Linked DNA regions of Homo sapiens. The protein of the gene in region 2 interacts with the protein of the main gene of each other region in a biochemical or structural test. Each region holds a gene or a part of one and is shown on either strand. Other genes may lie near its edges. The genes, in order: FBXO7 and TENT5D.

What was found.
Region 1: of the proteins of TENT5D (region 2) and FBXO7, one has a biochemical effect on the other in vitro, tested with the Homo sapiens proteins (one large-scale study listed by BioGRID).

Annotation. Positions count from the first base shown.
Region 1 is NC_000022.11:32,481,311-32,485,130, forward strand, and holds part of FBXO7 (F-box only protein 7), read left to right. Parts: intron 1-2,586; coding exon 2,587-2,814; intron 2,815-3,757; coding exon 3,758-3,820. UniProt on the Homo sapiens protein: Substrate recognition component of a SCF (SKP1-CUL1-F-box protein) E3 ubiquitin-protein ligase complex which mediates the ubiquitination and subsequent proteasomal degradation of target proteins and plays a role in several biological processes such as cell cycle, cell proliferation, or maintenance of chromosome stability.
Region 2 is NC_000023.11:80,418,987-80,423,510, reverse strand, and holds the start of TENT5D (terminal nucleotidyltransferase 5D), read right to left. Parts: upstream 3,065-4,524; 5' UTR 2,948-3,064; intron 1-2,947. UniProt on the Homo sapiens protein: Catalyzes the transfer of one adenosine molecule from an ATP to an mRNA poly(A) tail bearing a 3'-OH terminal group.

The DNA.
Region 1 (3,820 bases), on a different chromosome or scaffold from region 2:
TATTTCTGAGTCTTTTTTGCTGATAGACTTGTTCTGGGATGACTTAGTAGGGGCCATTACTTTTACTTCTGTGTACTTTTAAAGTTGTCTAGTAAGATGAAGCTTTTCACAGTATTTGTGATAGTTTGCTAGTTTCCTTTTGGAAAATTTTGAGAAATTAATGTTGCCTGAAGTTACTAATTTCAGTTCTAAGATTTTGCATATTGTTTTGTATTCCAAGACTTGTAAAGGGTGACAGGAAAATCTTTAGAGTATGGAAACTGAGCTCAAGATCTCATAAATAATGCTTTCAAGTACATCACACTCTGTAATGTAGAATGGAGCATTAGAAAAGGAAAATAGATGCGTAAAACTTGAAACCATAGGAGGTAAATTTACTCTTGTAATTAAATATCAGTTTTCTTATTTCATCATATTTGGGAATTCATCGAGTGCCTCTTGAGTCTTTAATGAGAAACGGGTAGCAGGTATCAGAACCTAATATTAGCTCTCATGCATCTTAGTCACTTGTTTTAGTCTTTTGTAAATGACATATGGCAAAATGATCTGTTTAGAGAGGTGTGGTGCTCACCTTTTTTTTTTCATTTTTACACATGTGAAGAATTTGATAAATATTCATATCAGAATAGCTCAGAGAATGTCAGTGGTTCTTATGGAGTAGTAGTAAGGCTTGACAAGCCCAGCAGGGGATTTTGATATCTCCCTCTCATGTACTCAGCCTAGGGTACCCTTTTTCATTTTTCCTCATATATTCTGTCCCACACAACTGCCAATAAGTAGTAAATGGCCAAAAGTTAGACATAGTGGTAAAGAAGCAAAACCTATGTTTCATAGTTTAGCTTGATGTTAAGTGGTTTTTAATGTAGTTGTTTCTGTTTTCTTAGGAAATATGGAAATATTTTTGTGCCATACCTCCTTTTTGGGTAATGTGACTTGTCATTGGCCTTTAGGTTTTAACAGGTGACTTTGGATCTTTTCCATAAGCCCTAGGGCTTAGGTCCTCAGAGATTTTGGAAGAACAGCTGTCACCTCCGGCTCCCCTCCATTTCTCCAACCTTTTACATATACTGTGTAATTTTAATTTCCTTTGCCCCTTCTTTAAACAAACCCTAAAAAGACGAAACGTATGCTTTGCATTAAGAGTTGGGCATATGCCTAGGAAACAAGCTTTCTGAGCAAACTTAATATAGGTAACTTAGTTTTTTTTGAAGCCATGTATTACATCTCAAAGCCCTGAACTGCAAGTTTAGAGATCTGGGTTCGTTTCAAATTTTTATTAGCTGGTAACCTTGATTATGTTATTTAATCTTTCTGATTTATAATTATAGGATCTATAAAAAGGCGATACCTGCCATGCCTATTTTATAGGATTGTTATAAAGTGCAAATAAGAAAACATTTTGAAAATAAAGACATTATGAAGTTGTAAGGTATTATCCTTCAGCATTTGTTCAGCAAACATTGAATACCTGCTATGTGCTAGGTACTTTACTGGGGTTACAAAAATGGGTGACATGTAGTCTGGTTTTTTATAAACTTGCAGTCATGGAAGGATGCAGATATGTAATCAGAAAATTGCAATACAGTGCAGTGTGATAAGGTGCAGTAATCAAGCCCGTTGCAAGGCAGAGTTGTGGTCTGTGTTACCTCTTTTGAAGAAGTGGAAAATACTGGGATGAGTAAGAAGGCACTGGCAGAAAGTGAACTTGATAATGAGTCAGAGATCAGGTAATGAAGGACTTTGTATGCTAAGGGATTTAGAAGTTTGGTCTTCATTTGTAGACCTGCATTTCTCAGTGTCCTCTGAAAATCTAGTTTCATGAGATGGTGTCACAGGGATGTTGACTGCTGAGGACGGAGGATAGTGTTTTTTGGTAAAGTGTTAGGCACACACTATTATTGTTATTAGACTCCTCAGTGCTTATATAATGCGAATAGTGTATTTTGTGAATATGGAGGGTGAAGTTAGGTGGCTGCAGCATGCAGTATTTTCCACACTTATTCCGTGTGCACCACCTTTTTTCCTAAGAACATCTAAGGCACAATTGAGGGAAATGCTGTTTATGTTGGGGAGGTACTGGTGAATTTTAAGCTGCGACATAGTACATGATCAGATTTTTAATTGTCAAGAAAATTCTGGCAGCAGGGACTGGGGTGTATTGGAAGACAAGAAAGTTGAAGAAGGGATACTTGCAACGGAAGCTCTTGCTGGATGTCGGGAAATAAATGATGAGAGTTTGAAGTGCCAATAGAGCAGGAAGGGGCAAATTTTAGACATATTTAGGAGTTAGTTTCAGGGAACTTTGAAGACTGATCAGATGTGGAACAAGGTTTAGTTAGGGAGGGAGGAGTCTAGGATGATTTCCAGGTTCTTGACATACCAGCTAGAATTAACAGAGGTAAGGAATTCAGGATGGAAGAGTAGGTCGCAGGCTTATTTATTTGTAAGGACTCACTTAAAATGTCTCCCATTTCTGAACCCAATGATGTACTTTGACTTTCAGCACTTAGTTCACTTTAGGATACAAAAATGTATAGTGTAAAAATAAGTCTTTAATTAATTCATTGTTTTGTTTTCCTTTTTCAGTTAGGGCCTAGTCAAAATTTTGAAGCTGAGTCAATTCAAGATAATGCGCATATGGCAGAGGGCACAGGTTTCTATCCCTCAGAACCCATGCTCTGTAGTGAATCGGTGGAAGGGCAAGTGCCACATTCATTAGAGACCTTGTATCAATCAGCTGACTGTTCTGATGCCAATGATGCCTTGATAGTGTTGATACATCTTCTCATGTTGGAGTCAGGTTACATACCTCAGGTAAGTACTGCAAGCAAAACACAGACATCTTATGATTGCTCATACATGTGGATGGTTCCTGCTCTCAAGTTGCCCGTAGTCTGAGAGTGGCAGAGAGAGACAAAAATATAAAGCACTGTGCTATATTGGTGAAGTTCTGGGAGAAACATACTCATATATAGGATGCCAGGAATTCATGGAGGAGAACATTTAGAATATTGCTTCTCAAACTTTAATGCGCTTTGGAATACCTGGGGACCTTATTAAAATGCAGATTCTGATTTAGTAACTGTAGAATGGACCGTGAACTTCTTCATACTCCTGCATAATACCAATGTTGCTGGTCTGTGAGCCATGTTATAAGTTACAAAGATACAGAGTAGTTCGGTGATCAGTGCACACCTGCAGCATGCCATGCACTGACCTAGAAATTAGGATATAAAAATATTGGGATATTTCTTGTCTTCAAGGAGTCCATACATAGAGGAGAGAGATGAATAAAAAGATACTCAGAAATAACACAGGTAAACATAGATAATAATACAATTGAAGTGTAATGGAAATATGAATAGAATGCTAGGGGATGAAAGGAAATGGCAAACAATTTTTCTTTGAAAAAGGCTTTACGGAGGAAGTGATATTTGAGCCGGAGTTTTAAATAATCATATGGCTTTGCTAGGAGAGAAGTGAGTCTTTGAAGAGAGAGATCAATCCCTGTTTCCATGATGCAGTTTTACCTATTTGAACAAAAATTTTGATTAAAAGTGTTCTAATATATTATCTTATACAATATGGTTATCCTACAATATAAAATATATTGGCAATGTTAATGATTTGATGCATTTTATTAAGAGGACTGTGTGGAGTGATTATTTCAAACAAGTTAGGAGTCTTTTGGATTTTTAATCTTTTTGAGAGTAACACCTTTCTTCATTATTTGTTTCCCTTTCATTTCGTTCCCCAGGGCACCGAAGCCAAAGCACTGTCCATGCCGGAGAAGTGGAAGTTGAGCGGGGTGTATAAGCTG
Region 2 (4,524 bases):
CAAAACAGCCTGCAAACTATGCACATTCCTTCCCATCCCGGTCCATAAAAACCCTGAACCCCGGCCTCATGGTGGGGAACCCCTTTGGGCCCCACTGTCTGCTGCAGAAAGCGTTCTTCTTTTGCTTATTAAACTTTCACTTGAAATTCACCCTTGTGTCCACGCTCCTTAATTCTCTTAAATATAAAAAAAAAACTCTGGATACTATCTCAAACAACAAAATACTGCTACATATTTTGCTTCATTGGGAAAACTACAACAGTAGTACTACTTCCCCTTCCTACTCTTCCTCTGCCCCTTCCAGTGGCTGTAGCTGGTAAAGATTTATAGCTATGTGAATTCAACAGTCACCAAGTGAGCTTCTCTTGCTTCTGATGTAAATGATGCAGAGTTGCTGCCTCTCCAAACTGCCACCAATTTCAGAGAAGCAAGCTGGCCAGAGAAATCTCCAGCCCCTTTTGAAGGGAATCGCTGAGAATACTCTGAAGTACAACAGGCTTTCAAGCAAGCTGGGAGGTAAAGCCACCTAGTGAGACCAAAATGCCATTCTCTCTGCACTGGATGCTGTACAACTCGCCATGACCCTCACAGTAAACCCAGTAACCTCATAAGCTTTATCCACATCATTCCAAATCACTAACCCCTCTGTGGATAACCCTGTCAACACTCAAGGAATTAAGTATTCTCTGAAGGGGACTCCAGAATTATAGCCAACACCATATACATCTTTCACATCCCTCTTAAACACTATCTGAGGAAGGAGAAAAGTAGAAACTCATCCCAATGTTTCTAGAAAAAGCCTTTTACTAACAAAAAAAACCCAAAAAACTTCTGTTCATAGCTCTCCCCGTCTACTCACCGCACCCTCTCAGACATTAAAACTTACCTCACCAACTGCTGCTCTCCTCAAACCCATCCCATCAAGGAGAAAAACTACAGGGGTGTGGTGTTAGCGTGAGGCTCAGGAGGGAGCCTGCTAGTAGGCAAGCAAGAGAAGGGGCCATTAAAGAAAGATAAAATGAAATGCAATTTTTTTTTTGAGACATAGTCTAGCTCTGTTGCCAGGCTGGAGTGTAGTGGCGCGATCTCAGCTCACTGCAATGTCTGCCTACCAGGTTCAAGCGATTCTCCTGCCTCAGCCTCCCGAGTAGCTGGGATTACAGGCATGCGCTGCCATGCCCAGCTAATTTTTGTATTTTTAGTAGAGACGGGGTTTCACCATGTTGGTCAGGATGGTCTTGAACTCCTGACCTCGTGATCCACCCACCTCAGCCCCCCAAAGTGCTGGGATTACAGGCATGAGCCACTGCACCCAGCCATGAAAGGCATTTTTTTAAAGGGAGAGAAATAAAGAAAGAAGGAATCATATGGATTCTACCTACCCTAGGTGGGGTGATCTCTTATTACTTTCCATTCTCCTTCATTGCTGAACTTTCTCCCATGGGATACTACTACCTTTCTCCTTTCCTATACCAAAAACTATTTTCCCTTTTTTTCTTATAAATAATGACTTGCCCCATGAATTCCCAACCTCCCACTCAGTAACCTCCACTTTTTTTCCCACCCCCCGACACACAAATAACTCCTCCTTCTCCTCACATTTCTTCAAGCATTTCCAACACAAATACAAATTTAAGTTCACGCTCAGAAGGCAGTTTTGCTGAAAGACGTGGCATTTTTTTCTAGTCACTTTTTTCCTTAAGTCTCCTTATCATGGGGAAGTCCCCTCCCTCATTTCAACACCTTCTACTCTTAGTTTGGCTACAGATATTCAGGTCCTCATATTTTCTCTCACATCTGCAGTTAATTTTCATAGGAGAAAAAGGGTGAATGATAATGGCATTCTTTAAAGAAACAATTTCAAAATGCAGTCTTTGCTATTTTAAAATACAATTGGCTTAATAAAATCCATTCAGTTTATGATTAATTTGATTATTTTTCTAAACTTTACTTGCATTAAATTGTTCTACTAGAGGAAAATAAGGTAACTTCACTCTTAAGGTACTTAAAAGCTATACAAGTGAGGCCAGGCACGGTGGCTCACGCCTGTAATCCCAACACTTTGGGAGGCCGAGGCGGGTAGATCACGAGGTGAGGAGATCAAGACCATCCTGGCCAACATGGTGAAACCCCGTCTTTACTAAAATACAAAAAAAAATTAGCTGGGTGTGGTGGTGCATGCCTGTAGTCCCAGCTACTCTGGAGGCTGAGGCAGGAGAATCGCTTGAACCTGGGAGGCAGAGATTGCAGTGAGCCGAGATCATGCCACTGCACTCTAGCCTAGTGACAGAGTGAGACCCCATCTAAAAAACAAACAAACAAACAAAAACTATACAAATGAGATAAGACATGAGTGCTTTAAAGGAAAAAAAATAATCTGAAAAGGAAGTTCAGGACTATATAAAAAAAATACAGATATGTAAACATGCTTGATTACCTGACAATAACTTTCTTTCACTGGTATGTAGTAATTAAAAACATTTGATATCAAAAAAGGAATTAGGTATAGTCTTTTAATACTTCACTTCAGAAACAAATTAAAGTTTGAAAATAATCCATCATCAGGCTATTTATTGAGATGTCAATGTGTCAGTCAATTAATGTAGGACGTAGGGAGTTTTGTAACTCTCTTACTCTAGAGTTCTGAAAAAACATAATTCTTAATACTATATCAACGTATCAGTTATGTCTTTTATCTCTTACTCTTGAGCTAGTTCAGAAAATAAAATATTAAAACAATTATTGATGCCCTTTTAAACATATTAACTGAGTTCAGTTTTACCACAGCCATGATTTTGGGCACAGTTATTAATGAAAGAGATAATTTTCAAAGATATTTTAGTTGAATCAAATAAGTTTCTGGACAAAATATAAATTAAACGTCAATTTTGATGTGTGCTCAGAGTTAAAACTAAAAGAAAAACTCCCTTTCTACAAGATTGCTCACCGTGTCTTCTGATAGTAGACTTTGCTGAATTTAACAGTCTTACTCTGAAGACTAACATCCTTTACCAGAGTTCTGCATCACCTGATCTCCACACATTCTCTACACCTCACTTGCTGCAATTCCAGGGTTACTGTTGCCAGGAGACAAGGAATATTATTATTGCATCATTAATGCTCTTATAGATGGGGGAATTTTCAAAAAATAAATTTAAATAGGGCAATTCTGAGTCCCAAATCTCAAAAAAGACAATGTTATACTAGATATATTAAAGATTAAAAACAGGTTCCTCAAGATACTTGAACTTAAGTTAAAAAATAGTGAAGAGGGAGGAAGGAGAAAAAAATAGTGAAAATAACCAGTTAAACCATGCAGATTCACACAGATAGGCAAACATTTTTGTTTTGTAAGTATTGTAACTGCCTACATGTAACTTCAAAATTAAGTTGTAATTTCTGAAATACAGAATTTGGGAAAATATTCTCTATTTAATTTTTACCCCCAAGTGAACATGTTTTTGTTTTAAAAAAAATTCTTAAACAATTAAAAAGAGGCTGGTCATGGTGGCTCATGCCTGTAATCCCAGCAATTTGGAAGGCTGAGGCTGGAGGATTACTTGAGCCCAGGAGTTCAAGACTAGCCTGGGCAAGATAGAGAGACTTCGACTCTATAAAAAATATAAAAAGAAATTAGCTCGGTGTGGGGATGCATATCTGTCATTCCAGCTACTCAGGAGGCTGAGGTAGGAGAATTGCTTGAGCCCAGAAGGTCAAGGCTGAAGTAAGCCATGATCACACCACTGCACTCCAGCCTGAGAAACAGAGCAAGCCTTTGTCTCAAAAAGAAACAGTTAAAAAAGTATTATGGTTGATAAGTATAATTGTTTTGAGTGCCAACAACTAATTTTTAAAAAGAACATTTAAAAGACAGAGTTCTTCTCAAAATAATGTTTTGTTACAGTATGTCCAATTTATAGAAACTATCACATAACTGTTTGAATAAGAATATCAAGATTACAAAGATAGGCAAATAGGTAGATATAGGAAGAAAATTGTCTGGCTAAGCCAGTGATCCATGTGATATTTTTAAGATAGATAATTTATAGCATTTTCCAGTAAAACATAGAAAAGACTAAATACATTTTGGAGGGGCCAAAGGTAAAACAAGATACCTACTCAATGTTTTCCTGGCAGTATAATATATGACAAAGAAATAAATAATTTTTAGTAACATTTAAGACTATAATCCTAATCCTTGTATATAAAGAATGTTACACTGGAGTTTAATTTTAAAGAAAAATATACGTGTACAGTTTCTTAAAGATATGAAAATTACATTACATGATATATATAATACTGAATATAAGTTTTTAATTTTAAACTTTTGAGTGTAGAATTTTTAAACATAATTAAATGGCAATGATAACTAAAAATTATATGATGCTTATAATGTGTCAGGTATTAAGTGCTTTAATTAACTCAATCCTCATTCAAAAGAATGTGAAGAATAGAGGTAGGGTCTATGATCCCATTGAAAAAAATAAAAAACAAATTATGCAAAGAAATTCATGAAAAGAGTAA